Linked DNA regions of Homo sapiens: region 1 is linked to region 2. Evidence: fine-mapped expression QTL. A gene starts in region 2. The other region holds a variant in brackets. All regions are shown on one strand. Distances are from middle to middle.

Region 1 (4,381 bases), 31 kb after region 2:
GCTTGAACCCAGGAGGCAGAGGTTCTGCACTCCGGCTTGGGCAACAAAGCGAGACTCTGTCTCAAAAAAAAAAAAAGGAAGAAATGTTTGTGGCTTGAATAGTAACAATAGTGATCTAGGTCACATTTCTTGGGCCCTCACTTTGAGCATGACACTGTCTTAAGCCAGTTACCTGCATCATCTCATGTAGTCCAGACAGCAACCCTGAGGAAGATACCACTACCAATGCCCAGGAACTGAGGATCAGAGAGGTTCATTGATTTGCCCAAGGTCACACAGCAAACTCACTGCAGAGCCAGGACTCAAAACCAGTTCAACCAAACCGGTGATGTGAACCACTGTGAATACTCACTGCTTGCCTAAACTCTGACAGTTAGGCTGATATGAACGACCCCAGGATGGGAAATGTATGTATGTATGTATGTATGTATGTATGTATGTATGTATGTATAGTATGTATGTATTTTTGAGACAGAGTCTCACTCTGTCGACAAGGGTGGAGTGCAGTTGTGTGATCTCGGCTCACTGCAACCTCCATCTCCCAGGTTCAAGCGATTCTCCTGGCTCGGTCTCCTGAGTGGCTGGGATTACAGGCGCGTGCCACCACGGCTGGCTAATTTTTATATTTTTAGTAGAGACAGGGTTTCGCCATATTGGCCAGGCTGGTCTCAAACTCCTGACCTCAAGTGATCTGCCTGCCTCGGCCTCCCAAAGTGCTGGGATTACAGGCGTGAGCCACCGCGCATAACTGTACATGAGGGGTGGGTTCCTTCTCTGCGGCAAGGCCATCCTGGGTACTGAAGAGTGCTGAGCAGCATCCCCGGCCCCCACCCCCTCCATATCAGGAGCAACCCCCAGTCATGACAACCACAAATGTCCCCAGACATCACCCCATGGGCCCTGAAGGACAGACTCACCCCTGGTTGAGAGCTACACTGTACAGTATATACTTGGAGGCCTCTGTGGAGTTAATATATCTGATAGTAAATGCTATGCATGAGAATCCCACTTCTGATGTTTATTAATTATTATTATTATTATTATTTTGTTTTGAGTTGGAGTCACGCTCCAGTCTCAGGCTGGAGTGCAGTGGCGCGATCATAGCTCACTGCAACCTCAAGCTCCTGGGCTCAAACGATCTGCCCACCTCAGCTTCCCAAAGTGCTGGGATTATAAGCATGAGCCATGGCGCCCGGCCTCTGCTGTTTTGTTGTTGGTGTTGTTGTTGTTATTGTTGTTGTTTTGGGACAGAGTCTTGCTGTCTTGCCAAGGCTGGAATGCAGTGGCGCCATCTTGGCTCACCGCAACCTCCACCCCTGCCCTGGGTTCAAGCAATTCTCATGCCTCGGCCTCCCAAGTAGCTGGGATTACAGGCACCCGCCACCACACCTGGCTGATTTTTGTATTTTTAGTAGATACATGGTTTCACCGTGTTGTCCAGGCTGGTCTCACACCCCTGACCTCAGGTGATTCACCGGCCTCAGCCTCCTGAAGTGCTGGGATTACAGGCACCCGCCACCACACCTGGCTGATTTTTATATTTTTAGTAGAGACAGGGTTTCACCGTGTGGTCCAGGCTGGTCTCACACTCCTGACCTCAGGTGATTCACCCGCCTTGGCCTCCTGAAGTGCTGGGATTACAGGCGTCTGAGCCACCGCGCCTGGCCTCGGCTGTTTATTTGCTGAATGACTTTGGGCCAGTCGCTTCTGTTTCTGAGCCTCAGTTTCCCCATGTGTAAAAGGGGGATTTATTCCTAGCATCTTCCTCCGGAACACACTGGATTAAACCAGCCAATGCATATAAATGGCCTGAACCAAAGTCACCACTCACTCCATAGGCACCACCATTACCCCAGCGGGACTCTTCTGGAAGATTCTGATCTGCTGTACAGCACCCCCAGCGGGTCCCTGCCCCCTCCTTGCCAGCTGCCTCCCATTTCCAGGCCCTAGACTCAGTGGACCACACAGGCGGGCGTTGGGGACACTTCCTGTGCAGCGGCAGCAGTACCCGCCACGCCAGGTGGGCCAACGGGAGAATGCAGCTGGGGCCGCCCCACTTCCTGCCCCCGTGGAGGGGCCTCTCATTCTCCCTGGTCCCTACTCCCAAAATAACCCTCCCCCGCCCCGGGAACCAAAGTCACCCACACCAGCTGCGGCCTCCCACTTGGGGGACGTGGGACAGGCAGGGGACTAGCAGCTGCCACCACCACGGTGCCTGCCCCGCTGGGAA[C/T]GTCCACCCCCTGTTGCCACCACCTCCGACATTCCAATCCCCAAAAGTGCGGGGGGTGACCCGGCCTCCCTCGTCGTCCGGGAAATATGAACTCCAAGGAAGCCGGGCTGGCGGGGAGGAGGGAGATCCTCGGCCACCTTAGGTGACCGGGGACCCTCCCTGACCTGAACCCCCAGGCCTGAGGCGCCCCCAGTTTTCACCTCGTGTGACTGTGTTGGGGAAAAGGGGGTGGTTGCCAGGACAACAGCCCCCCACCTCCGCCCAGGGAACAAAGAGGCAGCCGGGAGAGCCAAGAACGGCCTGTTCTCTCCCCGCCAATGCGGCTGGCACATCCTGGCAGCTGGCACTGGGAGGGCCGTGCCCAGAGCCGCCAGGCCTGGCCATCCTGGACACGGTTCTCCAGGGAGGGATTGGCTGTGGGGGTGGCTGCGGCCCCAAGGAATGGAGTTGCAGGGGCCCGTGGGATCGGATTCCCAGGCAGCTGCCCCAGGCCTCCATCCTTCCCGGACATGGACAAGGAATCTGCCTGCCTGCAGGACTTGTGGGAGGCCCAAGAAGTCGTAAATGTCTGGCTCAGAGCCGGACGGGCCACCAGGGACGGAGGGTGCAGGAGACAATGGCCAGGTGGAGGCCTGGCCCGGGGTCCCCTCGGGCATTCCACGGATGGGCATGCGAGCCAGTAGGACACTCCTGGCCTAGGAGAGGGGACAGTGGGTCTCAGAGCTGCTCCCCTCCCCCACGCCCGCCAGCGCCTTGCAGGGGGCAGCGGGCAGCTGGCGCCATGAGGGCCTGGGGGTGGGGACAGGCCAGGGCCTGCATGTTAAAAGACCCCTGGCTTCCTGCAGCGAGCCCAAATAATTGCCAGACAAAATCCTCTGCCTTCTCACCGTTGGGCCACAGCTGGTCAGGTGTCCACCCGGTCGCTGGAGCCACAATGTGGCGGGGGGCAACGTGGACAACGTCTGGCTGAGTTGCCAGGTTAATTACAAGACAGGCAGTTAAACGAATTATTGTTGTTGTTATTATTAGTATTTGTTTTTGTTTTTATTTTGAGACGGAGTTTTGCTTTTGTTGCCCAGGATGGAGTGCAATGGCGTGATCTTGGCTCACTGCAACCTCCGCCTCCTGGGTTCAAGTGAGTCTCCTGCCTCAGTTTCCTGAGCAGCAGAGATTACAGGCACATGTCACCACATCCGGCTAATTTTTTGTATTTTTAGTAGAGACGGGGTTTCACCATGTTGGCCAGGCTGGTCTCAAACTCCTGACCTCAGGTGATCCACTCCACCCCCTCGGCCTCCCAAAGTACTGGGATGACAGGTGTGAGCCGTCGCACCCGGCCATTATTATTATTTTTTGAGACAGATTCTCCCTCTGTCACCCAGGCTGGAGTGCGGTGGTGCGATCTTGGCTGACAGGAACCTCTGCCTCCCAGGTTCAAGGGATTCTCCTGCCTCAGCCTCCGAAGTAGCCGGGATTACAAACGTACGCCACCACACCCAGCTGATTTTTGTATTTTTAGTAGAGACGGGGTTTCACCATGTTGGCAAGGCTGGTCTCCAACTCCTGACCTCAAGTGATCTGCCCACCTCAGCCTCCCAAAATGCTGAGATTACAGGTGTGAGCCACTGTGCCCGGCCAAAATGAATTATTATTATTATTATTATTATTTTGAGACAAGGTCTTGCTCTGTCACCCAGGCTGGAGTACAGTGGTGCCATCATAGTTCACGGCAGCCCTGACCTCCTGGGCTCAAGCAATCTTCCTGCCTCTGTCTCCGAAAGCACCGGGATTATAGGCGTGAGCCACTGAACTCCATTAAATGAAAAATGTTTAGCATAAGTATGTCTCAAAATAATTTGGAACATACTTACGCTAAAAATTATTCACATGGCCAGGCGTGGTGGCTCACACTAGTAATCCCAGCACTTTGGGAGGCCAAGGTGGGAGGATTACTTGAGCCCAGGAGTTTAAGACCAGCCTGGGCAACATGGTGGGACCCCCACCTGTATGAAAAATACAAAAATTAGCCCGATGTGGTGGCATGCACCTGTACTCCCAGCTACTTGGGAGGCTGAGGTAAGAGGATCGCTTAGGTCCAGGATGTCGAGGCTGCAGTGAGCCCTGATTGTACCACTGCACTCCAGCCTGAGC
Region 2 (4,311 bases):
ACGCCCCAGGTCAGCAGCAGCCGCAGCACAGCAGGCTCAGGGTGGCGGAAATTCCTGATTAGCAAGCGCCATCTCCAGACTCTGAATAAGCTAATCCAAATTTTTAGAAACAAACACTCGCAGGGTCTGATGCTTAACCGGTACAGGCTGAGAGCAATTGGTGGTGGATGTTTAAAAAAGAAAACCTGGTCCCCTCCGTCCTAGCTACCAGATGGTCCTGGGCCCTTTCTCGAAAATTCCTCAGCCTTCCATCGGCCACCTCCAAAACTTCTTTCTCTAGCCATTATTTTGAGGCGGAGCTTTGAAAAAAGAAGTTTAAAAGCCCAGACCCTATAGATTCGAGGGCCAGCCGCCAGCCCAGCGTGTCAATCTGTGAGTCCTCCCTTTGTTCCTTCCTCTCGCAGGCATTTGAGGTTTCTGTGGACTTCTCCTTCCGGGAGAGATGAAGTGGGACCGGACGAGGTTGTTGGGGGGGGAGGTGGGAGGGAGAAAGTATCGGCTGGTGGCTGCAGAGGCGCGAGGCCTGGACCAGGCATAGAACAAAGGTGCTGGCGGCGGGTGTACCTGTTTGCCCCTGTAGAACAGCCTCTGCAGGCCTGGCTCCACGTGGAACAGCTCCTGGATCTTCCGCCTCAGCTCCTCCACCTTGGTCAGCCTGGACAGCGAGTCCACCGTGTGGGTCTGCCTCCCGTCCATGGTCCGAACCTGGATCCACATGGTGTCGGCGCTGAGGGGAGGGACAGCAAAAACCCCCATCAGTTTTACCAGCACCTCTGAGCCATGCCATGCTCTAAGGAGTCGGGGTTGCTTTTGTCCGGCCTGTGGACACCAGGAAACTCCCAGGATGCCCTTCCAGTCCTCCTGTACAGCCAGACCCTGGCCAGGACCAGACACAACAAATTAAGCACTTAAGGCATTAACGACTAGCCAAGTGTTGAAGATTGAGGAGGAAGGAGAATGAAAAGAGGGAATTGAAAGAAAAGCAGAAGGTCCAACCCATCCCTCCTTCCCCACGACCAGAGGAGAAAGGAGGCCCGGGCCAAGTGGCCGAGTTGGTTCGTTTATTCATTCATTCATTGATTCATTCATTCCTCGGATTCCTATTTACGGAAGAGGGAATCCCAGAAGTCCAGCGCGGGCCGGAACTTCAGAAGTCCCGGGGGAACTCAACCAAGTGCCACTGAGAGGGAAAAACCCCACCCGAGATCCGCGGACCCCGGGACCCCTCGGTGCCCACGCCCCCCCTCCTTGCCGGCCCCCCCCGCGCGCGTGCGCGACCGGGCCCGCCCCGCGGTGGCCATGGTAACCGGCCGCCCCGTCCCGGCCACCCGCGAGCGCGCGCGCCCCGCGACTCACCTCGACCTCCAACCCCCGGCAGCTCGCGCCCCTCCAAACCCTGGACCCTCGGCGTCCCTCCCGCACTCCCACTGGCCCGCGCGGGTCGCGCCAGCGAGCCCACGCCCACCCCCGCCGCCGGGACTACAGAGGGGGCCCCCGCTCGTCAAGTCCCGCCCCCCTTCACTTGAGCCGCCTCTTATTGGCTCCGCAGCACCCGGCCGCCCCGCCCCGCTCGCTCCCCATTGGCCCAGATGCTCCCGGGGAACTCAGGGCGCGCGAAATCGGGCTCGGGCGCGACAATTGAATCGCGGGGCGCCCCGCGCGCAGGCGCGGAGCCTGACATCCTCCCCGGCGGCTCGCCAGGCCCTCCCCCACCCGGCGCGCTCGACCCCCCGCCGGGCTCCGGGGACGCAGCGCTGGTCCCGGCTCCAGCCGGATGTGTGCCGGGGAACGATTCCCGAGGGTTAGGTGGAAGGGGAGGCCCTGGATCCCGGGACAGAGTGCGGGACATGCGTGCGCCCGGGCTGGCCGCGCGGGAAAGTTTTGCAAAGTTCCCGAGCCCCGTGCGCCCGGCCCGGGCTGGCACCCCGACCCGGCCCGCCCGCTCACCTCTCCGGTCGCCGCGAACAGCTTGTCTGCCTGCGCGCGTGGCCCGGCTGGGGATGGCGATGAAACCGCGTGCGTGGCCCGGACCCCGCGCGGACTTGCGTGCGACCCGGAGCGCCCGCTCGGCAAACGCTGCCCGCCGCGCTGCCAGCTGCTCTGATTTTTTTCCCGCGAAAACTCGGCATTTGGGAGTTGCGGGGCCGCAGGAGGCCGTGCCGGGGGCGGGCGCCTGCCTCCTGATTGGCCGACGCAGTGGCGGGAAGCGAGAAAGAGGGTGGGGGGCGCCCCCGCCTCTGTCCACGGCGCCTCCGCCTAGTGGGCCACGGCTCCGCCCAGCCCTGCGCGCTCTGCTGGGCGCGCCCAGCGTGCAAAGGGGCTGCGTGGCAGGGCCTGGTCACCCCCCGCACGTGGACACCCCAGGAGCCTTGGGGACCCCCAGGGTACAGACCCCCTGAACTCTTAAGTCCAAGTCCGTTCGCAGCCCCCCACTCGCACGCATTGACCAGTAGGTCTAAGAAGGCCGGAATCAATGTGTAAATACTGCGAGGGAATGTGGGGGGCCCCTAGGAGACCACCTGCACCCTGATGGCTCGCCCGATCGCCCCAAGCCCCACTGCCTGGCGTCAGGGCCTGCCAGGGCTCCCCACTCTACCCACCCGCAGGGCTTGTTTGCTGTCTTTTCCCGCCTCGTTTTCCCGCCTTCTCCAGGCTGTCCAGGCGGGCAGGGCTGCCCTGCCCCCTCCGCCCTGTCTGTTCCACTCTGACCAGTCCTGGCGGGCACAGGAGTGACCTGTGCTGGGCACCTACAAAGCAGCCGGACAGGTTGCTCAGAGCTGCAGAACCCAGCGGTGTACATGGCAGACCCAGTTGGTGGTCTCAGGGAGGGAAAATTCCTATCTGGGGGAGACAGGCAAGAAATGAATAACTAAAGCAGATAATTTCAGATGATTCCTTATAGGAGAGTGACCAGCAGCCATGTGGTGGGAGGCGGGGAGAGAGGATACTCTCTCACTGGGGCCACTGCGGTGGGCCTCTCAGAGAAGATGACATTTGAGCTGGAATCGGAGATGAGACTCCAAGGACAGATGGGTCTAGGAGGGAAAGTCAAACCCAGAGGCCGGAAAAGGCTTAGAGGTGTCCAGGGAGCAGGAAGGGGCTGGTGTGGTTGGGGCCCACTGAGCAAAGGGGAGGGGGAGTTGAGGTCAGAGGGGTGATATATAATACCTTGAAGGCCACCGGGGAGGACTTTGGTCTTTCCCTTGAGAGCTGTGAGCAGAAAAATGTTGAGTTCCCACTTAGCTTTTTACAGTTTCTTCGTCACTCTATTAAGTCTCCTCTATCTGGTCAGTGGGACTTCTGCTATGTCCCTAATATAGGAGACAGATCATGGCCCCCGAAGATATGCGTCTCTAGACCCCCACGTCCTCGCCCCCAGGATCTGTGAATACAGTGCCTTACACAGCTAAAAGGACTTTGCAACTTTGCAGGTGTGATTCAGTTAATGATTTTGAGTTGGGGAGCGTCTCCTGGGTGATCCAGGTGGGCACAATGTCCTTAAAAGGTCCTAATAAGTGAAAAAGGGATACAAAAGGTCAAAGTCAAAGGAGATGGGAAAGTGGAAGCAGGCTTTACAATGATCAGGCCAAGGGCCGGGCGCGTTGGCTCACACCTGTAATCCCAGCACTTTGGGAGGCCGAGGCAGGCAGATCACCTGAGGTCAGGAGTTCGAGACCAGCCTGACTAACATGGAGAAACCCCGTTTCTACTAAAAACACAAAATTAGCCTGGCGTGGTGGCACATGTCTGTAATCCCAGCTACTCGGGAGGCTGAGGCAGGAGAATCGCTTGAACCCAGGAGGCAGAGGTTGTGGTGAGCCAAGATCGCGCCATTGCACTCCAGCCTGGGCAACAAAAGCAAAACTCAGTCTCAAAAAAAAAAAAAAAAAAAAAAAAAGATCAGGCCAAGAGGCAAGGAAGATGGGCAGCCTCTGGTGGCTAGAAAAAGCAAGAAAGACTCCTAGAACCCGCCCTGCCCCTAAAATTTATTTCAGACTTCTGACCTCCCAAACTGTAAGATGATAAATGTGTGGGCCGGGCGTGGTGGCTCACACGTGTAATCCCAGTACTTTGGGAGGCCGAGGCAGGCAGATAACTGGAGGTCAGGAGTCGCCAGACTAGCCTGGTCAACATGGTGAAACCCCATCTCTACTAAAAATACAAAAATTAGCCAGGTGTGGTGGCCGGCGCCTGTAATCCCAGCTACTCGGGAAGCTGAGGCAGAGAATTGCTTGAACCTGGGAAGCGGAGGTTCCAGTGAGCAGAGATCGTGCCACTGCACTTCAGCCTGGACAACAGAGCGAGACTGTG

Evidence for each region. PIP is the estimated chance that this variant, and not a neighbour inherited with it, causes the effect. A credible set is the group of variants that fine-mapping cannot tell apart.
Region 1: its variant is the best candidate, but not a certain one, in a credible set for the expression of UHRF1 in tibial nerve (GTEx, PIP 0.83).

The regions. Positions count from the first base shown.
Region 1 is chr19:4,876,446-4,880,826 of GRCh38, reverse strand. No RefSeq gene overlaps it. Among named protein-coding and RNA genes, the nearest start is that of PLIN3, 11 kb to the right of the region's middle. RefSeq lists a silencer at 1,919-2,098 and enhancers at 1,511-2,392, 2,393-3,276. The variant C/T (reference allele first, on the strand shown) is at 2,231.
Region 2 is chr19:4,907,292-4,911,602 of GRCh38, reverse strand. It overlaps UHRF1 (ubiquitin like with PHD and ring finger domains 1), which reads right to left and starts at 2,102. Exons shown (of 17, transcript NM_001048201.3): 1 at 1,948-2,102; 2 at 565-727. The coding sequence starts at 717. It also overlaps a transcript of ARRDC5 not described here. RefSeq lists silencers at 1,244-1,763, 2,264-2,343 and an enhancer at 2,163-3,069.